Linked DNA regions of Homo sapiens. The protein of the gene in region 1 purifies or fractionates together with the protein of each later gene. This does not show direct contact. Each region holds a gene or a part of one and is shown on either strand. Other genes may lie near its edges.

What was found.
Region 2: the proteins of C3AR1 (region 1) and ATP2B4 purify together in Homo sapiens (affinity purification with mass spectrometry; 2 studies listed by BioGRID and IntAct, with this or other methods). This does not show direct contact.
Region 3: the proteins of C3AR1 (region 1) and MFSD8 purify together in Homo sapiens (affinity purification with mass spectrometry; 2 studies listed by BioGRID and IntAct, with this or other methods). This does not show direct contact.
Region 4: the proteins of C3AR1 (region 1) and UBE2Q1 purify together in Homo sapiens (affinity purification with mass spectrometry; 2 studies listed by BioGRID and IntAct, with this or other methods). This does not show direct contact.

Annotation. Positions count from the first base shown.
Region 1 is NC_000012.12:8,063,323-8,070,387, reverse strand, and holds the start of C3AR1 (C3a anaphylatoxin chemotactic receptor), read left to right. Parts: upstream 1-4,028; 5' UTR 4,029-4,110; exon of another isoform or gene 4,111-4,167; intron 4,168-7,065.
Region 2 is NC_000001.11:203,741,826-203,744,612, reverse strand, and holds the end of ATP2B4 (plasma membrane calcium-transporting ATPase 4), read right to left. Parts: 3' UTR 532-2,787; downstream 1-531. UniProt on the Homo sapiens protein: Calcium/calmodulin-regulated and magnesium-dependent enzyme that catalyzes the hydrolysis of ATP coupled with the transport of calcium out of the cell. By regulating sperm cell calcium homeostasis, may play a role in sperm motility.
Region 3 is NC_000004.12:127,962,167-127,969,893, forward strand, and holds the start of MFSD8 (major facilitator superfamily domain-containing protein 8), read right to left. Parts: upstream 3,008-7,727; 5' UTR 2,968-3,007; coding exon 2,906-2,967; intron 1-2,905. UniProt on the Homo sapiens protein: Outward-rectifying chloride channel involved in endolysosomal chloride homeostasis, membrane fusion and function. Conducts chloride currents up to hundreds of picoamperes.
Region 4 is NC_000001.11:154,555,627-154,562,847, forward strand, and holds the start of UBE2Q1 (ubiquitin-conjugating enzyme E2 Q1), read right to left. Parts: upstream 3,037-7,221; 5' UTR 2,928-3,036; coding exon 2,601-2,927; intron 339-2,600; coding exon 234-338; intron 1-233. UniProt on the Homo sapiens protein: Catalyzes the covalent attachment of ubiquitin to other proteins. May be involved in hormonal homeostasis in females. Involved in regulation of B4GALT1 cell surface expression, B4GALT1-mediated cell adhesion to laminin and embryoid body formation.

The DNA.
Region 1 (7,065 bases):
AAACCTGAAAGACCATTTAATCCAACCTTTAATTTTCCACCTAAGAAAACAACAACAAATTTCTAGGTCAAGTATCTAGCCCAAGGTCGAGTAGTTATTACAAAACTGAAAGTCAAATGTATGTCTCCACATTCCTGGTCTAGTGCTCTATTCACCTCATGAATCTTTTCTTCCATAAAAATTTTCCAGCTAATTCTAGCCACCATCAATCAATCTTACCCTTTGCTGACCAGCCATTGCATTTGTCTGTGTCATCCACAGTTTTTGGCACTTAGTTATATTTAATTTAGAGCATAGGTTACTACAAATTATCTAATAACGGATTTAATCATTTTTTGTTGAAGTCTTTAAGGACAGTAACTTTATAATGTATTTAACTCTCTCAGAGAAAACAAGCTAGAGATCTGTGATTCTAACATTTTTATTTTGGCCAAACAAGCTTTAATACAGATCTCCATCAATTACAGTGTAGAATTAGTCAAGTGACTGGTAAAAGGTTTTAATATGGCTGCCTTTGCAACATACATTCAAATTTTCTTTTTTCCAAAGCATCTGATCTCTGCTTTTAGAAATTTATATTTAGATATTCAGAATAGAACAAAACAGAAGTGAATCACATAACTTCCTCAGAGCTTTCCACAATACACCACAAAACAACCAGTACTTTTTAAGAAGAGAGAGAGGTCATCCAGAAACAGGAGCACTATTCACAACAAGTTTTTAGTAATTTTCTTCCTGAAAAATCCAAAGAACACAGCTGGGAGCTCTTGAACCAGTTTAAATTGCTGTATAACATCCAGCTAAATTTTTATATTTTTAGTAGAGATAGGGTTTCATCACGTTGGCCAGGCTGGTCTCGAACTCCTAACCTCAGGTGATCCGCCCGCCCTGGCCTCCCAAAGTGCTGGGATTACAGGCATGAGCCACCACACCCAGCCACATTGCTGTGTAATCTTTAGAGAGAGAGAAATTAGTAAAAGTGAATTCATGCCAGAAACAACTCTAAGGACTCAAGTTAATTATTTGAATTATATTCAGATGTCAACATCCTTTTCAAACAAACATTCATTCACTTATTGGTGCCACAGACCTGTTATACCAGGCAAGGTAGCAGCCACTGGAGACAGACAAGAAATTCATGGTAGGGGAGAGAGAGAGACAAGGTATTATTTTACAGTACTATTGCCTGACAAATTTCTACCCATCCTTATGGCCCCAATGCTACCTCTTCAGTGCATCATCGTGGGTTTGCTTCCATGAGAATTAGTCTCTTACGGTTTCATATTCCCAGGGTGTATTGTGCCCTCCTAACAGCCCCTACTGTATTACAGTTATATACATCTCTCATTCCTCCTCCATCTTCCGCAGTGCAACACACTGTATCAGGAGCAGGAGCAGAAGCAGAGTATATGTTTATGGTACTGAACTTAGTGTGACAATTTGTGAAGTCTCTTTAGTGGAAAATTCTGTATCTTTCAAAATGTAAAAGTGTGTGCTCTTAGACTTAGCAATTCCAATTCTAAAACTCTATTCTACAGAAATACATGTAAATACTATAGTGCTCATTGAGTTTTGTTTATAATCATTTAAAATTGGATAAAAACAATATTCCACGAAAAATAATTAAGTAAGTGGAATAATATGGAGCAACTTAAAAAGTATAATTTGGGACCGCACGCAGTGGCTCACGCCTGTAATCCCAGGACTTTGGGAGGCCGAGGTGGGCAGATCACCTGAGAGCAGGAGTTCGAGACCAGCCTGGCCAGCATGGTGAAACCCCGTCTCTACTAAAAATACAAAAAATTAGCCAGGTGTGGTTGTGGGCACCTGTAATCCCAGCTACTTGGGAGGCTGAGGCAGGAGAATCGATTGAAGCCAGGAGGCAGAAGTTGCAGTGAGCCGAGATCGCACCATTGCACTCCAACCTGGGTGACAAGAGCAAAACTCTGTCTCAGGAAAAAAAAAAAAAAAAGTGTAATTTGGGCCAAGATGTCCTGATATAAAAAGATAAGTGGAAAAAATAGAACAAAACAATATGCGTAGTAGAATATGCGTATTTAAGAGAGAGACTACATCTGGAAAGTGGAAAGAGGATAGCTAGGTGTTTAGGAAATTTTGGTTTTTACTTTAATCTTCTCATATTTAATTTTTACCATGGGGAATTAATTGTTTTTATAAAATATATTTTAATTAGATATATATGTACATATATGATAATCCTACATTTTATATGCTTTCTGGATACCTATATTATTCAATATTTCCAAATATTGGAGGAAAGAAAACCCAAAATAATCAATAGGATTATATGTACTAACATGGAAGTATGTTTTGATATATTGTTAAGTAAAAAAGCAAGACATAAAATCACACATAAATTACCATCCCATTTATGTTCAAAACTACCTTTTAGAAAAATGTGTGTTAGGCCGGGTGGGGTGGCTCACACCGGTAATCACAGCACTTTGGGAGGCTGAGGCAGGTGGATCACCTGAGCTCAGGAGTTCAAGACCAGCCTGCCCAACATGGCAAAACCCCATCTCTACCGAAAAAATATAAAAATTAGCCGGTTGTGGTGGCACATGCCTGTAGTCCCAGCTACTAAGGAGGATGAGGTGGGAGAATTGCTTGAACCTAGGAGGCAGAGGTTGCAGTGAGCCAAGATGGTGGCACTGCACTCCAGCCTGGGCGACAGACTGAGGCCCTGTCTCCAACAAACAAAATGTGTGCTATATTCAGAAAAAAAAAAATCAGGAAGAATGAACACTAACCTATTAAAAATAGTTACTTCGAGCAGTGGAATTGAAAAGAAAATCTTTCATTTTTTTTACCCATTATAATTCTGTATTATTTCAATTTATCTCTTCTAGAACAAAGTATGTTCTATTTTTGTAATTAGATGATGACAATGGAAATAAACTAATAAATACTACTCAACTCTTGGCATTTTTCTTTTGATCTTTCTGCCTCAAAAATATTCCGTGGTGACTTGACTGCAAACAAGCAGAGGAGCAGATATTATGGTTTGGACAAGTTGATTAATATAGACTGAAGCCTATATCACAGACAACAGTGTTCAAATACATTTGACCCAAATAAACTTTATTTTATATGCATATATCTAAAAGAGTATATGCATATATCTAAAAGAATAATATAAGAATTATTTACAGCATAGTATTCATTAAGCAGGAATTACCTTCAGTCTTCTGTACTCCTTCCTGATGAAACAGCACCTAGACTCCAGCCTGTTCTCCAGTGACCACTAAGCTCTCCCACCTACCTCCCCACCTACCTGCCCTCTACCACCTACCTGCCTTTGACTAGGCTCCACTTATAGCCTAAGCAGCTTTTCACCTTTTTCTGTCTCTAGAATTCCTACAGGTACTTAATTAAGTACTTGCCCACATCTTATTTCTATCTTAAGACTCTCCTAGATTGCCCTGGGTTATATATACCCCTGGCTAGAGTGTTCTATTATTTTACTTCTATTGTTACTTCTATTATTATAGCCTAGTTTGTATTACAGCTTTGTGTGTATATGTATGGGTACATATTCCCACTCGATTGTGAATCTCTGGAGATTAGAATATAGCTTAATTCATCCTGATTTTGACATGGCACCGTTTTTCACATATATCAAGCATTTCAGATATGTTATTTGAGATTAATTAAATGAGTTTATTCAGGTCATTCCTCCCCAACCACTCCCCACTCCAACCCTCACATCTCATAGAGTCTTTTTTTTTTCATTTCTAAACAAAACCTATAAAGTTGAACCCTATGTACAGAGGTACCCTCTCTCTAACCATTCTCTGTGTGCTGCAGAAAATGTCTCAGGATTATAAACTCCTACTTCTGTTTTCCTGCTTTGCCTTTCTAAGCCATTTAGAAATGACTCACTTTGAAACTCTTCCTGTGAGGTCAGATAGTGGTCTAGAGCATAAGACTTAACTTATTGCCGGAAACAGAGAGAGAACAGAAGAAGAGAAAGCTCAGCAAATTTTCTTGCCATACTTCATGACTTCACTGTGGCTAAGTGTGGGGACCAGACAGGACTCGTGGAGACATCCAGGTGCTGAAGCCTTCAGCTACTGTCTCAGTTTTTTGGTAAGAAAACCTAGACCTACCTGATGACTTGTGCTTAGCCTGTTTTGCTCATTATAGGTAATGAGTTTGAGTGTCACTATCTTCTATTTCCCCTATTCCTTCTCTGACTTTGAATTCTTTTATCTTATCTCTATGTCTAACTTCCTTTTTCTAAATATTCCACATTGCATTTGTCTTTGCTTTTAATATTTTCATAGTGGAATTAATAGTGAATTTTTACATCATTTCTTTCCTTTCTTTGAATTGGCTATGTATTTCACCCTGAACTTTGATTCCAGCTGTCCCCATTAATTTGTTTTTCAAATAATTGATTGCACTTTTTTTCCCTTTCCATTTCCTCTTTCTTTTTTTTATTCTTTTGCCCATTCCTTATTGCTACTGACTCTGTTATCCTATTACTACAATTTGATTCTGGGGTCCACTTTTCTTTCTCTATCACAGTGGAATTTTAGTTTCAGGATATTAATTACCTTTAAATTACGGCTGGTCAACTTAGTAATAATTTTTTTTAATCCTCTACTAATCTTAAACACATAAAGGTATGGTATTTTTAGCCAAATTAACTTGAAGAAATGTAAAAAGTAATCTTGCTCTGCAGGACTTTTTTTTTTTTTTTTTTTTTTTGAGACAGAGTCTCACTCTGTTGCCCAGGCTGGAGTACAGTAGCATGATCTCAGCTCACTGCAACCTCCGCCTCCCAGGTTCAAGCGATTCTCCTGCCTCAGCCTCCTGAGTAGGTGGGATTGCAGGCACGTGCTACCACACCCAGTTAAATTTTTTTGTATTTTTAGTAGAGACAGGGTTCCACCATGTTGGCCAGGTTGGTCTCAAACTCCTGACCTCAGGTGATCTACCCGCCTCTGCCTCCCAAAGTGCTGGGATTACAGGCGTGAGCCACCACACCCAGCCTTGTTCTAAAGGACTTTTAATCCCTGACTCCTACATACTTTCATTTCAAAACAGATAATAACAATATTTAACATATAGCTCATGACAGATAACTCTATTTTTATTAAAATTTTGCTGTTTGCAGTCCCTGCTACTTCAGTTCATGCAGTTCTCGGCAGCTTCCCCTTTATTAGCAATACCATATATCTTTTTTTTTTTAATGTGATTTTTTTTTTTTTTTGGTAGTAAAAACAGCATTTGCCTAACAGTCCTCGGACCTGAAATCCAAGAACCTCCCTAGTAATGATTATATGCTTGTAATCTAATTTGCTGAGTTTCACTGTCAAACTTGAGAAATAAAAGCAGAGAAAACGTAGGCTGGGCACAGTGGCTCATGTCTGTAACCCCAGCACACTGTGAGGCCAACATGGGAGGATTGCTTGAGTCCAGGAGTTTGAGAGCAGCTTGGGCAACATAGCAAGACCCTATCTCTACAAACAAACAAACAAACAAACAACAACAACAACAACAAAATGAGGAGAGGAGAGATGATTACCAAGTTTTCTTTCAGCCCTAGCATCCCATGACTCTATTCTTCTCTCAATATTTTAGGGGGGTACCGTGATAGTATTTAAATATCTGAGTAGACAAGGCCATGGAAAGGGGAATGAGAATAATTTCTTCTTCTTTTTTTTTTTTTGAGATGGAGTTTTGCTTTTGTTGCCCAGGCTGGAGTGTAGTGGCGCAACCTCGGCTCACCACAACCTCTGCCTCCCAGGTTCAAGCGATTCTCCTGCCTCAGCCTCCTGAGTAGCTGGGATTACAGGCATGTGCCACCATGCCCACCTAATTTTGTATTTTTAGTAGAGACAGAGTTTCTCCATGTTGGATAGGCTGGTCTCAAACTGACCTCAGGTGATCTGCCTGCCTTGGCTTCCCAAAGTGCTGGGATAACAGGTGTGAGCCACTGTGCCCAGCCCATGTCTTCTTTTTTATTATTTTGTTGACTTGCTATTTTAACTTCTGCTAATCATATGAGGCCCTATGGCAATATTTGGCTGACTCAGCAGAACTACTTTCAAGTCACAAAAATATTTTGAGCCTCTATAAAAGTAAAATGTTATTTTATCCAGTAAAAATTAGGAATTTCACAAAAAGAAAGTTAAAAGGGACAGCATGGGAATTAAGGAAGAGGCCTGGGTAAGGATTACATGGATACAAATTAGAATTTTAGATGTAATTGCAAAAGAAAAAAAAAGTCAACCCCCAAAATGGGCATCCATCTATTCAAGTAATTTTTTTTTTCTTTTTTTTTCTTTTGAGACAGAGTCTCTTTGTCATGCAGGCTGGAGTGCAGTGGTGCAATCTCAGCTCACTGCAACCTCCACCTCTCCAGTTCAAGCGATTCTCGTGCCTCAGCCTCCCAAGTAGCTGGGATTACAAGTGTGAGCTACCACACCCAGCTAATTTTTGTATTTTTGGTAGAGATGGGATTTTGCCATGTTAGCCAGGCTGGTCTTGAACTCCTAGCCCCAAGCGATCTTCTCCCCTCGGCCCCCCAAAGTGCTGCGATTACAGGCATGAGCCACTGCGCCCAGCCTTTCCACATAATCTTTAACCTTGGTGTCTCATAAGGCATTATGTTAAATTATGTGAAATGAGCATTTATGAATAAGACTCCTTTTTACCATCATAAAGTTTAAATCCAGAATAATAGATTAGACAGCCATTATAATTATTGTACAAGATAAAATGTGTCATTGCATATAGAATATGAAAAAAAGGTTCAAACATGCGCACACACACAAATTAAGAAGCTGAAGACTTGGTGAAGGGCATAATTCCAGATAGAAGTAAACAGCATTAGCCATGGAACGGAAAATGGCATTAAGTTGGAATAGTGAATTGTTCAGGAAAGCTATAAAGCAGGGTACATTTACGAGCATGTTCACAGTTAGGGGAAGGTAATATCACAGAGGCCAAGAGAAGAGAGTGTTAAGAAGTCAGTGTATCTAATGACACATATTGTGGAAGGTGACTGAGAAACAAACGTTTGGATTTGGTTTT
Region 2 (2,787 bases), on another chromosome or scaffold:
AAAGCTCAGAATGTAAATGACCTGCCAGGAAGCTGTTTTGACCTGAAACTGGGGCCTAATATGAGTCTCTAGCAAGACTCAATTAATGAAAGACATTTTTTAAACCATAGGGAAGTGAGGGGGAGGGTGGAGAACCCAAGGGAAAGGCGGCTAATGTAAGGGAAACTACTTCTCCTAAAAGACATTTCATATAAAACAAACCAAAACCAAAACCAAAAAAAACAAAAAACAAAAAAAGGAAAGAAAAAAAGCAAGGACTGCCAAGACTGCCTCTTTCTTATTCTTCCAAAAGCTCCAGCTCCTGAACTGTGGATTCTAACCAAGGTGGGTGGAGCACAGCTTGCACTGCAAGGGAATGAAGCCAATGCGAAGGCCCAGAGGGAAGGGAAGCGTTGTCAGAGTCTGGTGGTAAGCTGAATTCTGTGCCTGTTTAAATGGGGTTGTCCTTGTGGTTGCGGCATTTCCCTTCTCAACTTCAACAGACAATCAGTGGCATTACCCAAAAGTGGAGACGCATTGAGGACAGCACAGTTACAAGTGGGCATGAGTTTTTATTCTCAGTGCACAGCAGTATTGGTTTCTGTTCATCAGCAAAAAGCTTTATTGGCTCCAACAAATTATCCCTTTTAAAACTCCTCTTCTTCTTCTGGTCTCAGTGGAACAACACATTTGAATTTCAGATTTGCAGTTTATAGCATTTTTTTTCCCTAAGAACCATATAAATACATGCAAAACCTTGTACATAGAGCTTAAATAATATCAAAATGCAAATATAGATTGGGTGCACTGTTAAGCTGAATTGCAAATTATGGCAACACACACTGGACTGGGGTATACGTTGCTTTGATATCACCATTTGTTTGTTTATGTCATGCAGACCACAATAGTCAATCTTTTGTTTTTCTTTTTTGTACAAAAATACCAGTGCTTGTTATACTAGTTACTAAAAGAAGAAGAAACTCAAAATTCCTATCTGCGTGCTAATTTGAAAAGAACAACGTAGATAGATTTGTTGGCACATATATATGGCATATTCACATATGGCATATATACATATGGGGAGAAAACATGAACCAAAGGCCAATTCAGTTATGGGAGCTCATCTCCTTCCATCTCTCCTAATCAAGAGCAAAGGGAACAGCAGGCCTAACAGCAGGGTTGGGAAGGCAAAAGGACTGGCACTGAACTAAGTGAAAGGGCGTCTGGTCTATTCAGAGGAAGAGGCTGGAATGGCTTAACAATAGCAGGCATTTATAAGTGCCCACCCTCACCAATGCATCGGGGGTGGTCCCTAGATATGAAAGGTGAGGAAGTCTCTGCATACTGTGATGGTACCACGGGCTGCTTCAATTGTAAGGCAAAGGAAGCAGGAAAGAAAGGAAGGGATGCATTTAGAGGCTTTTCCACACAAGCGAGTGTGCCACGCCCCTCTGGGTTTTCAGCAGTGAGGTAACCATTCAGATTTAACCATGCCAACTCTCCTCTCTGAAGCTCAAGGGGAAGAAGAAACTCAAACCCTAAAGAACCCACAAGTGTCCAGAGGGATTTCTAGGTGATCTCTCTCTTAACCCCTTTAGGGACAGGAGAGTCATTCCAGAGGACAGATGATACTATGGGAAGGATCTAGCCTTAAGACTGTCACTCAGGGCTAGAACCAGCCATTGTTTTATCCATTTAGAATTCTGTCCCCATTTAATATATTGCACAAAATCTTTCTAGGGGAGGGAAGGCATCACAAATAAGATCCTTGCACAAAAACTCACTAATGGAAAACTCCAGGGGGAACAGGAAATAAAAACCATGAAAAATGCAAACCCCAAATCAGAGTATCCTTATAGACCAGGAGATATTCGTGTCTTTTATACCACTCTGCCAGCTATTCTTCAAGAAACACAAATCCAACAGAGGCCCCTGATCCTAATGACTAGTCAGGAAAGATTCTGTCTATCCATCTGCATGGTGGGGGTTGGGGGGAAGATTCATTTCCTGACAGCTGTGTCCCTTGCTGGGTGTTTTCCTGACTATCCACAGTTTACTACCCGTTTTTCTAGGTTTATTAAGAGAGGAAGCTAGGATGATACGTTCTCCTTCTCCCCATCAGACCCTTTTCAAATCCAAAGCACCATTTTGGGGAAAAGTGTTATTAACTTATGCCATATTTACCCACTGCCAGTTGGATCAGTGAAACTGAATAGAAAAAACTTATATAAAAAACATATGCACATAGACACTTAAACTTACCTAATTCCATATCAACAAAATTTATATTAAAAAAGTCTAGAACCCAACAATTTTTCTTCCCTAAGTATAAAGATGGCTGTTTGCAGAAAGAAAGTATGGTGTATTGGTTTTAAAACCAATTACAAATATACTAAGTCACCTGTCATGCCAAACAGCTGGTTATGTGCTCCCTTCCACAGGGCTACATGACGGCACTTTATTTTAAATCCTTTAAACAAAATACATATGGCTGACCCAAAAATATCAGTTTCTGATCTAAAGAAAACTATAATTTTTGCATATATTTCTATATTTTCTCTCCTATTATGGAAACTAGAACACAAGAAAAAAAACCATTGACTTTTAAAAAGTAGACACAAGCCCTCAAGGGTAACCTGTCAGGCACCATGAGAACCTTTTGTGAACAGGAATGGTAAAATAGCCTTCAAAGCTCGTTATTGGCTTGCTATTTAAAATGATCTGAGGTAATACAAGATTTGATAGAATTAAATCTTCTAAAATAGTTGATGAATATATATGTGAAACCTAACACCTTGGGTGAGCTGT
Region 3 (7,727 bases), on another chromosome or scaffold:
CAACGGGCCTCAGAGCCTATTGAGACATTTGGGACTGTTTGCTTCTACACCAGCACTTTGGGAGGCTGAGGTGGGTGGATCACTTGAGGTCAGGAGTTCCAGATCAGCCTGGCCACCTGGTGAAACCCTGTCTTTACCAAAAATACAAAAATTAGCCGTGTCTGGTGGCCCACGTCTGTTAATCCCAGCTACTCCAGAAGCTGAGGCAGGAGAATCGCTTGAACCTGGGAGGCAGAGGTGGCAGTGAGCCAAAATCGCACCACTGCACTCCAGACTAGCCCACAGAGCAAGACCCCGTCTCAAAAAAAAGTATAGCAGTGTAGAATAAATTGGTATAGAAGCAACAGTCCCAAATGTCTCAATAGGCTCTGAGGACATCACTCTATTAAAATTCATATCAGCATCGATATTCATTTTAATGATCTCAAGATAAAATCAAGTAAAGATAAAACTGCACTCCAGGCTCACCACTGCACTCCAGACTAGGCCACAGAGCAAGACCCCGTCTCAAAAAAAAAGTATAGCAGTGTAAAATAAATTGGTATAGAAGCAAACAGTCCCAAATGTCTCAATAGGCTCTCAGGACATCACTCTACTAAAATTCATATCAGCATCTAAACTCATTTTAATGATCTCAAGATAAAATCAAGTAAAGATAAAACTGCATTGCATAAACTCTGTTTAGTAAATCGAGGACCAGAGAAATACATTTGCCAAAGGGTTTTGAGTTAGAGTGCTCACAAAAGGTTGGTGCTTAAGGGGAACAAATGAGTAAAAATTATTATGGTCATAGACAGCTGAAGTTTAACTGAATTTATTAATTTACCTGAGGTAATTATTATGTATATTTCAAATAAAATAGTAATTCCGTTTTCCTAAAGGTAAAAATACATTAGGTATACATTCCCGAGTCACTGCCCATAAACTAGGATCAGAACAACCAGAATTATAAGGATCAAAATACTGACGTTATTCCTTTAATGCCTTAAAATTAGTCTTTCTTTGTACATTTGGCATAGGACAAAGGCGAGCTCATTTTGGACAGATTTGTTAAACTATCAAGAGGTTGTCAGGCAATTAGGCAGCAGGTCATTACTAAGACCGATACCTTCAAGTATCTATTAAAACCATCATTTTGAAACTGTGAAATCTGGAAAGTGATCAGCTACAAAGGGCCAAATATGGAATGCAGAAGATACAGAATGTGGTGGCTTTGTGTCCGGGATTGGTGGGTTCTTGGTCTCACTGACTTCAAGAATGAAGCTGCGGACCCTCGCGGTGAGTGTTAACAGCTCTTAAGGTGGCACGTCTGGAGTTTGTTCCTTCTGATGCTCAGATGTGTTCAGAGTTTCTTCCTTCTGGTGGGTTCGTGGTCTCGCTGGCTCAAGAGCGAAGCTGCAGACCTTCGTGGTGAGTGTTACAACTCTTAAGGCGGCGCGTCTGGAGTTGTTCGTTCCTCCCCGTGGTCTCGCTGGCTTCAGGAGTGAAACTGCAGACCTTCGCGGTGAGTGTTACGGCTCATAAAAGCCGTATGGTCCCAAAGAGTGAGCAGTAGCAAGATTTATCGCAAAGAGCGAAAAAACAAAGCTTCCACACTGTGGAAAGGGACCTCAGCGGGTTGCCACTACTGGTGGGCAGCCTGCTTTTATTCTCTTATCTGGCCCCACCCACATCCTGCTGATTGGTAGAGCCGAGTAGTCTGTTTTGACAGGGCGCTGATTGGTGCGTTTACAATCCCTGAGCTAGACACAAAGGTTCTCCACGTCCCCACTAGATTAACTAGATACAGAGTGTTGACAGAAAGGTTCTCCAAGGCCCCACCAGAGTAGCTAGATACAGAGTGTCGACTGGTGCATTCACAAACCCTGAGCTAGACACAGGGTGCTGATTGGTGTGTTTACAAACCTTGAGCTAGATACAGAGTGCCGATTGGTGTAGTTACAATCCCTGAGCTAGACATAAACGTTCTCCACGTCTCCACCAGACTCAGGAGCCCAGCTGGCTTCGCCCAGTGGATCCCGCACCGGGGCTGCAGGTGGAGCTGCCTGCCAGTCCCGCGCCGTGCACCCGCACTCCTCAGCCCTTGGGTGGTCGATGGGACTAGGCACCGTGGAGTAGGGAGCGGCGCTCATCGGGGAGGCTCGGGCCGCACAGGAGCCCACGGAGTGGGTGGGAGGCTCAGGCATGGCGGGCTGCAGGTCCCGAGCCCTGCCCCGCGGGAAGGCAGCTAAGGCCCGGCGAGAAATCGAGCGCAGCGCCAGTGGGCTGGCACTGCTGGGGGACCCAGCACACCCTCCGCAGCCGCTGGCCCGGGTGCTAAGCCCCTCATTGCCCGGGGCCGGCAGGGCCGGCCTGCTGCTCCCAGTGCGGGGCCCGCCAAGCCCACGCCCACTCGGAACTCCAGCTGGCCCGCAAGCGCGGCGCGCAGCCCCGGTTCCCGCTCACGCCTCTCCCACCACACCTCCCTGCAAGCTGAGGGAGCCGGCTCCCACCTTGGCCAGCCCAGAAAGGGGCTCCCACAGTGCAGCGGTGGGCTGAAGGGCTCCTCAAGTGCCGCCAAAGTGGGAGCCCAGGCAGAGGAGGCCTGGAGAGCGAGCAAGGGCTGTGAGGACTGCCAGCACGCTGTCACCTCTCAGCTTGGGTGCTGCAACAGGCAAAGCAGCAGCCTGGGTTTCTCCAGCCCCGTCACTCGAACCCACGGGCTCATCACCGCACGGTGCGGCCAGACGCCCTTTCTCCTACGTTGGGAGCGAATCTCCTCGGCTCACACAACCCAGCCACCGGCTCCCACCGCGCTGGAACCCCTCTGGCAGCGAGGGTTTGTCCCAGTGCGGGTGACGCCCGGAAAGGAACCAGTCCCAACAGCGCAGGAGACTGAGGGGTCCCTCCACCAGGATCCGCTCACCTGCTTCCAGGTGTGTCGCCTAAGAGCGGCTCCTGTTCACTTTCGTTCCGCAGGCCGGCCATAGTTACACTCCCTACAAGGCGTCTTGCGCCCAACTCTCGCGACACCTGCTTTCTCCCATCCCGGGTGGCGTGAAGCTGGCAAAACAAGCCTGTAAGTGCGCGTGCGCACCTGACGGTCAGACGTAGGCGGAACGCCCCGAGGTCATAGGCGGGGTCACGCGGAAGGCCGGGCAGCGCAGGGCGAAAGGAGGCTGTGTCCTCAGCCTCCTCCCTCGGCACGCGCCTCCCATCCTGACGGGGACTGAGAGCCCAGGAGAGCTCGGGGCGTGTCCAAACTGCCGCGCCGCCCTGCTCCGGGTTTGTCTTCCTCCCTCCGTTTCTCCTTCCGCTGTATCTAGCATTTCGGTTCCTGGAAAGGTTACCGGAGCTGCGATTGGGGCTGGGACCAAAGTTGAGTCCTGGAAAGGGAGCCTGGAGAGCGGCGGTGCTGGGAGGCCCGGCCAGCTCGATCGCAGGCTTCCACCTGGCGGCCAGTAAGTAGCCGGTCCGGTTAAGTAGTAGGTGCGCTAAGAGCTCCCCGCGCCTCTTAGCGCGCCGTGTACGCGCCTGGAGGCAGGGACCGGGGACGCGGAGCTGGGCGGGAGACTCGCGGGTCAGGGACGCGGGGTGAGGCTGGGGGTGAGAGACAAGGCTGGAGTCCGTGGCGCGCTTCGGAGGGCTGAGATAATGGGGGCGAGCGCGCGGGCAGTCCCTTCCCCCCGTGAAAGGTAGAGGTGGCTTCCAGCTCTCTTCTCTAGCTCGGCTAAATGCAAAGGCGCCTTACCTGGAGGGCTTGTCAGAGCCAGGACTGAAGGTGGGATCTGCTGCTTGTAACCTGCAGGTCCCCGGATGCGCACCCCAACGGCGCCTGCGCCTACGGGGGCCTCAGCCTTGCAAAATGTCACTCAGCAGAGCCTGCTGCTGAAACGTGGGAGTTGAAAAAGGTACAGCACCTGCCTAGCAATGACCAGCTCCTTTCGTCACAAGGAAGATGACATTTTTAGAAAACATGTCATGGGTTTTCACTAGATCTCCATGTTTATTTCTTGGTGGTTATGTATTAACATCTTATCTCTACTATTAGGCTTGTAGGCTAGCTGGCGTCAGTAGTCATTCTGTGTCTCATAAATTACCGTTTTATTAGCGCCAGATACATTGTCATGTAATTTCATTTGATCACAAGTATCCTATGAGATAGGCGAAGCAGACACATTGCTAGTTTACTGAAAATTAAGATCCAGACAAGTTAACCCAGAGTCACTCTGTGTGGAAGTGGCAAAGTTGGAAACCAAACTTAATTTTTTTAAATTAATATTTATGAGCATTTACCCTATGCTAGGTCCTATACTAGTTACACAGTCATGTATGGTATATGCCATCACTTCTGATCTTTGTGTCATTTGTGACCTTGTGTGTATCAGCCAGGCGCAGTTCACTGGTGAACACCTAAACTTGAAACGTGCGGTCTGGGTGCGATGGTTCATGCCTGTAATCCCAGCACCTTGGGAGGCCAAGGCGGGCGGATCACGAGGTCAGGAGATCGAGACCATCCTGGCTAACACGGTGAAACCCCGTCTCTACTAAAAATACAAAAAAAAAAAAAAAAAAAAAAAAAAAAAAAAAAAAGCCGGGCGTGGTGGCGGGCGCCTATAGTCCCAGCTACTCGGGAGGCTGAGGCAGGAGAATCCCTTGAACCCGGGAGGCGGAGGCTGCAGTGAGCCGAGATCACGCCACTGCACTCCAGCCTGGGCAACAGAGTGAGATTCTGTCTCAAAAAAAAAAAAAAAACCAAAAACCTTGAAACGTGCTATTCAGAAATATCTTCTAAATCAAGACCTGATATTTTGTACTTGGATTCAGTCTTGCAGATTCATTTGTAACAGCTCACAAAAACAAGTCAGATTTGTATTATTGGTTCCAAAAAGACACATAGGTAGAAAAGTTAGTATTTTCTTGCCATAATGTCGCTTTATTATATTGTCTTTTTTAATTCCTGGGGGCTAGCAATGTATGGCACATATATAGTGGACAAGGGGATTTTTAACCAGTATAGCAGTAAGCAGAATGGCTCCTAGATAAATATATGTTGGATGAATGCTCATTGAATTACTTCATCTCATCCTTACAACAATCCTCTGAGGGGGGAATTGTCTCATGTGTACAAGGAAATGGAAGGCAGGGAGATTAAGTAACTTGCCTAGGATCATACTACTAACAAGCAACAGAGCTAGAATTCAAGAAATGCAGGACTCCTGATCCTAAGCCTGTGCTCTTTACCACCAGGCTTCTTATGGGAAAAAATGGCAAAGCGGCAAGAAGAATCTTTCCTTATATCTCATAAAAATATATAGTAGATATTCAGTTTTTATCTAAGTGAAATAATTGGCTATCATGTATCAGGGCAGATATTACTTTCTGTTTATAGGTTAAGGTGGCTTACTCAAGGTCACACAGCTGGTAGAGGAATCCCAGCCCTCTGACACTGCTCTTTTCCATTGGTGCCTCCAAGTGATGACTTCAGACCACAAAAGCATATGGAATGAGTACATATACAGCTGGTGAAATCTAAGTAAGCTTAGTGTATTGTACCAGTAGGAAAAAAAAAAAAAGAAAATGTCTCTTAGGAACACACACATAGCATCCAAAGTAAACATTTAAACATATATATATATGTAATTTTTTTTTATAAAGCCCATGGAAAAGAGGAGCTAAATTTGAAGAGATTAGATTATTTCCCGAATGTTTCACACAAGAATATGAGACTCCATTTGGTGCATTTCCTTAGGTGACTGCCCAGGATATTTACCCACACCCCTTTCAAACAAACAGCCGGGCGCGGTGGCTCACGCTTGTAATCCCAGCACTTTGGGAGGCCGAGGCGGGCGGATCACGAGGTCAGGAGGTCGAGACCACGGTGAAACCCCGTCTCTACTAAAAATACAAAAAAGTAGCCGGGCGTGGTGACGGGCGCCTGTAGTCCCAGCTACTCGGAGAGGCTGAGGCAGGAGAATGGGGTGAACCCGGGAGGCGGAGCTTGTAGTGAGCCGAGATTGCGCCACTGCACTACAGCCTGGGCGACAGAGCGAGACTCCGTCTCAAAAAATAAACAAACAAACATCCTATTTTCTTACTCTTGTTCAGTGTAAGAGTAAGGAATTATATTTGTTGAATTATATTTGTGAAGCTAGGGAAGTAGATTTTAACAGTGGATATCTGAGGTATCTAAACCCTTTCTTAGCTACTTAAACTTGTATAGACATTATTTAGAAGTGAAATTACAAGATAAAATTTAAAGTCTTCTTTTTTAGGTAAGGGAATAAGTTCTTGTACATGGTGATATTTTTTAAATTTTCATTTATGCCTTTGAGATATGTATCACCAATGTAAGGATAAAAGTCCAGAAAAAATTAGTATTGCATTGTTAAATGCTTAGGTACCCAAATGACAGGAAATAAAAGCACTAGATAGCATAATAAATGATGAGTGTCACTTTAGCAATAGAACTCATTTCTAGGAAAGACTTTTTAGTTCTTGGCACTGTACTAGAACTTCTATTTTTGTTTCCCTTTGCTTTTCCCTTTCACATTGATAACTGTGTCATTTTAGCTTGATATATACTTCAAAAATAGGTTCTATTTCTGCAGAAGCTCATTGTTGTCTGTCCAGCCTGAAGTGGGGACTTTTAAGTATCTGGCATGACTCCAGATGGTGCCTTATTTTGGTGATTTGGAGTTACGTTCACCCTGGGCTTGGATTTTTATCTGTTCATGGTGGCACTAGATACCCTGGACCCAGCCAACCCTGTCTAGAAAGACTTACGTGTTTAGAGAGTTCCACAAAAACTGTCTTTTATGTTGTTCTTGGAGCTGAAATGGGATTTAAGAAGATTTGTATGACCCCAAACCCCAGAACCAAATTTATACTAACCTATATGTGCGTTTGATTTACTTTCTTTTCCTCATTTATTAGTTGTTTATTAGTAGGTAAATATAGTAAGGAATATGCTGTGTCTAAGTTTGGAGTGCTGACTTTTGTGGCCTGTTATGCAGGGAATTAAAGTGATTTGGGAAGGTTTTCTTTTTTTCTTTTTTCTTTTTTTTTTTTTTGAGACGGACTTTTGCTCTCGTTGCCCAGGCTGGAGTGCAATGGTGCAATATCAGCTCACTGCAACCTCCACCTCCTAGGATCAAGGGATTCACCTGCCTCAACCTCCCAAGTAGCTGGGATTACAGGTGCCCACCATCACACCTGGCTAATTTTGTATTTTTAATAGAGACGGGGTTTCTCCATGGGTCAGGCTGGTCTCCAACTCCCAAACTCAGGTGATCCGCCTGCCTCAGCCTCCCAAAGGGCTGCGATTACAGGCATGAGCTACTGGGAAGGTTTTCTAGTTTGGGTTGAAAACTAGAAATAAGTAAATAATTTAGGCAAACAATAAATATAGTACTTTACAAAATATTTGAAAAGTTCATTGTTCTTAGGTCCTTTCTTGCTTCCTTTGCAACTTTCTAATTCTATATTTTTGCTTTATCTTGGTTTTATCTACCAATCTAGAAGAATATCAAAGTTTAGGAAAATGGAGCATCTCATGAGCAGTATATTACTTTTCTTCTTACTGTAAAATATAGGTGTTGGAATTTTTTTTTTTTTTTGGAGACAGGATTTTGCTCTGTTGCCGAGGCTGGAGTGCAGTGGTGCAACGATGTGCACTGTTGCCTCAACTTCCCAGGCTTACACAATCTTCCCTCCACAGCCTACTGAGTAGCTGGGACTACAGGTGT
Region 4 (7,221 bases), on another chromosome or scaffold:
ACTAGTTCTCTAAGCCTTATGGGCCACGTGGCTGTGGGAATGAGTCTCCTGATGGACCAATCCCAGGGCCGATGCAGGGTCTCCCTCTGGCTTCAGTAAGCAACTCCCCCGAGAGGTCATCCCCTAAATGTTTAGCTGTGTACCGTCCACTTTTCAGGATCCCTTTCACAGGATGCCTTTGTGGCATGGGCCTCATAAGAACAAAATGTACCCCTACCCTGTGGCCCCCTCACCAGAGTATTCCCTTTCTTTATGTCCACCAGCCTCTCCAAGACAGCAGCCAAGTTAGGGTCATCAGACTCCACCGACCAGATGGGGGGCACAGCAGGGTATGACTCCTGAAGGGAAAAGAGCAATAAGAGCAATCAAAATGGGTGACTCTGGGAAAAGCCAGATTTTGCCTGTCCTCTTCCCCCCAAGACTTCTAGCCCCTTTGCTTCCCACCCCCACCCCCTACACACACATAAAAGCCCAACTTAGGTCAGCATCTAACCAAGCAGCTTCACAACAAATTCTAAACTGGAAGAAAAACAGTCCCTGGGAAGACCCTTTCCGAGAAGCAGACTGAAACCTTTTCTTTCTTTCCTCGAGAGTACAAACCAGGAAACCTAGCACAGCCAAACTTGGCTAACAGCGAAGGGGGACTCCTCATCTCCTGCACTGCCTATACAAGTTCTAGACTTCAAGTTCTCCCTGGACCCAGAACAGTCCTCCAAGCTTGCTTTTCAAACTCCAGAATCGGCTGAGGAAGGGATCACCTCATCACAATGACACTGAAGTGAAAAAAGCAGAGTTCAGTAGGGAAGAAGTATAAAAACTAGACTGTATCTCCAGAACCCAAGAGTAAAAGGGTACTGGCAAGAATCTACCCACACCACTTCCAGAAGAGCCCCTCAAAGACCAATTCTCCCCACCTCTCCCTTGGGAACCTGCCACCTTCTCAGTCCAGGCGTGGGCTGTAGGGCTCCACATGGCAGGCTGGGAGAAAGAAGCCTACGCTACTGACATTCCCAGCATTCCTGAGCCACGGTGCCAAATGCAGCCTGACCAGACTCCCTCTCTGCCCAAACCAAGGGGGCTAGTTTAGGCCAAGTCTCCTTTATAGCCATGGGGAGTCTGGCTGAGGACCCCCTAAATTTAACTTCCTGCCAGGGACAAACGCAGTAAATGGCCTCTGGCAACAGAAAGAGCAGCTGGATAGGGGCAAACCTACCCTTAAGGAATTAGAAGCTTAATTCAGGAACAAAATTAACTCGAGGTTCCCACACAAGCCAGGGAAACCTTATCCACCTCTACTGGGTATCTTAGCATTGCCATGACTCTAATCCTCAATGCTGGAGGAAAAATAATTATCAAAGATGCCCAAGTCTTCACTTAACTAAGCCACTCCTAGTCCTTCAATTTTAACTTTCTAGCAGGAAAAAAGAAAGGAAATGAAAAGAGAAATGGGACATATGAGTTTTGGTGGGGCACCAATCAATCCAAACTGAGGCTTTACCTCACCAAATCTTAACTTGGTTTGATTGAGAAAACGGACAGAAAACACCAGTAAGTTGAATTCAGGCCCCCAAGTAGCAGAGAATTCACAACTCTGCCTTTCCCCAGGCTACTCCGATTAGGTCTGCCTGCCTGGATAAAGTACTGTCTGCTAGCATTTCAGCTACTGCTCCGGTAGAGAGAATACCATCACAGCAGGTAACATCAACCAATATAAGTGCTATAGCATGCAGTACCAGACATTCCCAAATTAGCAGAAGCCAATTCTCTGTTCAAGGGATGTCTGAGGGTAGACCAGGCAGGAGACATGTAAGGTGTATGCCTAGGATGGAATGACGCTCACAGGGGAGAAATGCAACTGTTACTGCTTAGAATAAATGGGGGTAGCCCTCGCACATCACATCACTATCATTACCAGGAAAAGCAACAACCCAGGGCAAATGGACATATCCATAGGGAACAGGCAGGGGAGTGGCAGAACTGCTACCAGCTGAGGCAAAAAGAGGAGAGTTAGAGGTTACACCAGAAAAAGAATCCAAAGGAGAGAAGGAAGAGGAGTCAATGAATTGCAAACTATCACTTGGTGAAGTTGAGAGAGCAAGAGGGTCTGCATGAGGGATGCCTAGGCGGGGATCCCACAGGTGGCAACCTCCTAAGTCAGAGGTACTACTGAGAAGGGGGCATCGCTGAAATGTGCAGTGAGTTTCAGGCCAGGTCTTTGCAGTTAGGGTCAGTGCCGAGGCCTAAAACCTTGAAATAAGAGTAAGGGGAAGAAAGACGCATTCCTAGGTGGCAAGGTAAAGTTGTGGAGGAGTAGCCAAAAAGAGCCAAAATCATGAACCTTGGGATGTGGGTGGGTTCGTGGAAACGGGTAGTCTAGGCGCCATATGTCGGGGTGTCCCTTGCTATTGGGGTCAATGGTAGAGATTCTGGGTGCACTGCATAACCTCAAGCAGCAGAAACAAATGTAACCTGGAGAGAAAGAACTGAGCCCTGAGAGGGGCTTCGGCCTCCCAGGTCCTTCGAGAGCAAAAAGCTGGATGGAGTGATCCTGGGTCCCTGACAAGGGGCCCCCACAGAGGCGCACGCGAGGGGGTCCTCACCGTGATGTTGCAGTGGATGCGGACAGGATCCCCAGGCACCGACCCCCGTGGGGGGAGATGCGGTCCGGGCGCGGCCCCCGCCCCGGCCCCTCCGGCCCCAGCCAGCAGGAACTCGCAGCTCAGCTCGTCCAGGCAGGCGCTGGCAATGCGGAAGCGCTCGTGGCCGCGGTGGAAGATGGACTCGAGCAGCTTCAGCTCTCGCCTCAGGCAGGGCCCCGGCCCCGGGCCCCCCCCTGGGCCGCCCCCGGCCCCCGGCGCCGCCCCCTGGCCCCCCAGCTGCTGCCCCGGCCCCGGCTGCTGCTGCCCCTGCGGCTGCGGCTGCTGCATCCTCCGCTCCGCTCCGCTCCGGGGCCGGCGGGCCGGGAGCCTCCGGCCTGCGCTCCGGGCTCCGCCGCCGCCGCCGCCGCCGCCGCCGCCGCCGCGGTCCGCACTTCCTGATCCCCCCTTCGCCAAGATGGCGCCGCCGCCACCTCCGGGACAGGCCCCCCCCTCCGCTCGCTGGCCCCCCCAGCCGCCGGAAGCCGCGCGCCCCTCCTCCTCCTCCTCCTCCTAGGCGGCCCCGCCTCCGTCCCCCTCACGTGACTTCCCTGCTCTGGCCTCCTCCACGTGATCTCTCCGTCTTTCCCGCCCCCCTGTTCTCGCCTGCCACCCTCCACATGTGACCCGGGGCCTGGGGCTTGCCTCTGTGGGCGCCTCAGTGCGAGTTTGCGTATGTCGTGCGTGCTTGCGCGCGACGCCCCTTCGCCTGCGCTCCCCTCTCACGTGACTCGGTGCCGCGTGCTCCCAGGGGCTACCCGCGCAGGACGCTGTTTCCTGCCCCGGGCGCCGCTTCCCCCGCCCCCGAGCCGTGGCGAGCGTGCCCGGCACTCCATGGACAGAGAAGAAAGAAGTGCTGTCTTCCCCGTGCAGTCTTTATCCTGCTCCCACATGCTGGTCTTCGGCGCAGGATCCTGGAGCCTCTGCTCCCCGTGGGGGTGGGCATGCTGTGTCTTCACACTCGGGTGGGTGGTCGGGGTAGGAGCCGGGAACCGGAATGGAAGAGGCGTGGATTCTCGTCCCAGCCCTGGCTCTCATGGCGTTTTGTGACCTTGGGTTAACCACTTTCCCGCCGAGTCTCAGTTTCCTCATCTGTACAATGGCTCTCATGAGAATGATGCCTGTTTTTCCTATTCCCAGGGAGGGATTCGATGCGAGGACACCATAAAATGAGGAATGATAATAGATCACTGCTGTGTTATGTACAAGTGTTAGTTAATATCAGGCCTTTCGCGCTTTTCAGACCCCATGGGTCTGGACGAGGTTGGGGGAAGGACAGCATGGGCTTCCTCCACAGAGTCATGGAAGGAGTGCTGACTCGGGTGGTCCCCATTCCCTTTCCTAGGCCTAAATGGCTAACACCTTGTCGCAGTGGTCTTGGCAGCTGCCAGGAGTAGGTAGTGCCTCCGGACCCTCGCTAGGTGGCACTATCACAAAGGACAAAGCTGGTTGAAGCTACAGAAATCCCGAGCTGGCGTTCGTTTTGCCAAGGGCAAGTGTTATTAGCCTGTGGTAAGGCCTAGTCAATTCTGCTGGGCCAACTCAGCCCTTAAACCACTGGTCAGATTGCCCCGTTTCTCTCCCACTTGTACTAAAATGAGCTAGCCTTTGCTGGAAGACTATTCAATTGCCTCTGCAGAGGCCTCCTTTGGTCAAGTTGGGGTATGGGTATTTAAAGACGATTATAGTCTGTTCCTGGTCTTCGTGGGGCCATTTATCTGGTTTAGGTAGCCTGAACAGTTTGCTACATGTTGACTTTGTGTCTGTGTGTGCAAGCTGATAGCATAAAAGGCTGTGGTGGGAATTCCTGTTAATTATTTCCTGAGCGAAGGTGTTTTGCAAATATATATATATATATATATATATATATATTTATTTATTTATTTATTTATTTATTTATTTTAAGACAGGGTCTTGCTCTCTCGCCCTGGAGTGCAGGGGCACAATCTCAGCTCACTGCAGCCTCGGGAGACCTCAAGCTATCCTCCCACCTCAGCCTCCCAAGTAGCTGGGATTACAGGCGCATGCTACCACAGCTGGGTAATTTTCGTATTTTTTTTGTAGAAAGGGGTCTTGGTATGTTGCCCAGACTGGTCTCAAACTCCTGGGCTCAAGTGATCTGCCCATCTCGGCCTCCCAAGGTGCTGGGATTGCAGGTGTGAGCCACTGTGCCCAGGTGCAAATATTTGTAAATCTCCCAACAACATTGCAAGGTAAGTATTTTTACCCCTGTTTACAACTGGGGAAAAGGAGTGACTCTGTAAGGATATACAGTCTGTAAACAGAGTTCCTAGGCCTGTCTCCAAAGTCCATGCCCTTGTACCCTACTCTGCCTTTTTTAGTGTGTTGAACCCCAGCTCTGCCAACTACTAATGATGTGACTGTGGGGAAATTACTTAGCTTGTTTGTGCCTTAGTTTTCACACCTGTAAAATGGAGATCATAATAGTACTTACTTGTTAGGAGGATTATGTAAGAACACACGTAAAGTGCATAAAATAGTGCCCATGGTAAGAACTCAAACATTTTTTTAAAAATTGGGGCTCAGCAAGGCTTGTGTCTAGTGAAAGGAGAGAAGGGTAGGAGATGAGTCCAGTGAAGAAAGCAGGGGCTAGATTATGGAGACCACAGTACATTGTTTGGGTTTTATTTAAAGCACAGTGGGAAACTCCTGGAGGATTTTAAGCAGGGAGTGGCATGAGCTGATTTAAAAATTTAAAAGATCGGCCGGGCGCGGTGACTCACGCTTGTAATCCCAGCACTTTGGGAGGCCGAGGCGGGCGGATCACAAGGTCAGCAGATTGAGACCATTCTCACTAACGGTGAAACCCCGTCTCTACTAAACAAAATATAAAAAATTAGCCGGGCGTCGTGGCAGGCGCCTGGAGTCCCAGCTACTCGGGAGGCTGAGGCAGGAGAATGGCGTGAACCCGGGAGGCGGAGCTTGCAGTGAGCTGAGATCGCACCACTGCACTCCAGCCTGGGCGACAGAGCGAGACTCCGTCTCAAAAACAAAAACAAATTTAAAAGATCACTCTGGCTGTTCTGTGGAAAATGGATTGTAGGGATTTTTTTTTCCTCCAAAAAATCATTCATTACGGGTGCCCATATTTGGAGTAGAGTGAGCAACCTTCTCCTTTGACTTGCTCCCTGAGCATAGAATTCTGTCATTGACTCAACAAATAATGTCCTGAGCACTTAGTCTTTGCAGGAATTGTAGAGGGCACTGGGGATGCAGAGATAAAGAAGATAATGGTCCCTGTGAGAACGTGATTTGTGGTACAGAGGAGAGGCTTCTTACCGGACAGTTCCTACTTATTAGTTTTGTTGTATTCTTGCTCCAGCCCTTAGGAGCACACAGTGATGGATGAAGTGGAGCCAAATCTCACCAACAGTAATACAATACGATGAACACAATAATAGGGATCAAGAAGGGGAACGGCCTTGAAGGGTGATATTATTAATAGGATTAACTCCAAAAAAAATGTGAAAGTAAGAGTTTCTTAGGTGGAATGGGAGAACATTCTGAAAGAACTGGGCCCTAAAGTAGAAGGAGGTTGGGAAGAAAGGTCTAAAACAAAGAAAGAATGACTTAAGAAGGGGGCTGGTGCAGTGGCTCACGCCTGTAATCCCAGCACTGTGGGAGGCGGCCAAGGCAGGCAGATAACATGAGGTCAGGAGTTTGAGACCAGCCTGGCCAACATGGTGAAACCCTGTATCTACTAAAAATACAAAAATTAGCCGTGCGTGGTGGCGGGCGCCTATAGTCTCAGCTACCCAGGAGCCTGAGGCTCGAAAAATGCTTGAACCCAGGAGGCGGAAGTTGCAGCGAGCCAAGATGGTGCCACTGCAGACCAGCCTGGGTGACAGTGAGACTCTGACTCAAATAAAAGGAAGGGAAAGAGACAAGGAGGGAGCTCAGCATAGGCAAGAGTTGTAGAGGTGTTGGTCGTTGGGGCTATTGCCTGAGATCCCAGGGTAACCCTGATAGCCTGGTAGTATCAATGCTTCTGAAAGTCAGTTTAGCAGTTAATATTCAAAACACGTTAAAACTTTAACCCAGCAATTACACTTGGAAAGAAAAGGTACGTGCACAAATTTGCCTAAAAGGGAAAACTGTAGCTGTGAAAAATAGTTATCAAAAATACTTATTGGTATGGAGAGTTGTTTGAGAAATAGTAAATGAAAAAAGATTAGACTGAAGTGAGCTGAAGATTTAAAAAAGAAAGGTGGTTACAAAGCTATGTTACAGTGTGCTCCATTAAAAAAAAAATATGCGATTTAGTTATGTACCCAACAGAAATGCATATACAGTCATGTGTCAGTTAATGGTGGGATACATTCTGAGAAATGTGTCTCAGTGGTTTTTTTGTTGTGTGAACATCATAGTGTACTTACACAAACCTAGATGGTGTAGCCTACTACACACCTAGCCTATAGGGTCTAGACTATGGCTCCTAGGCTACAAACCTGTACTGCATGTTATACTGTAGTGAATACAGTTGCTGCATTCCCCGTGCCCACTAGAATTCCTGCAATTACTGTAGGCAGTTGAAACCCAATAATATGTATTCATGTATCTATCT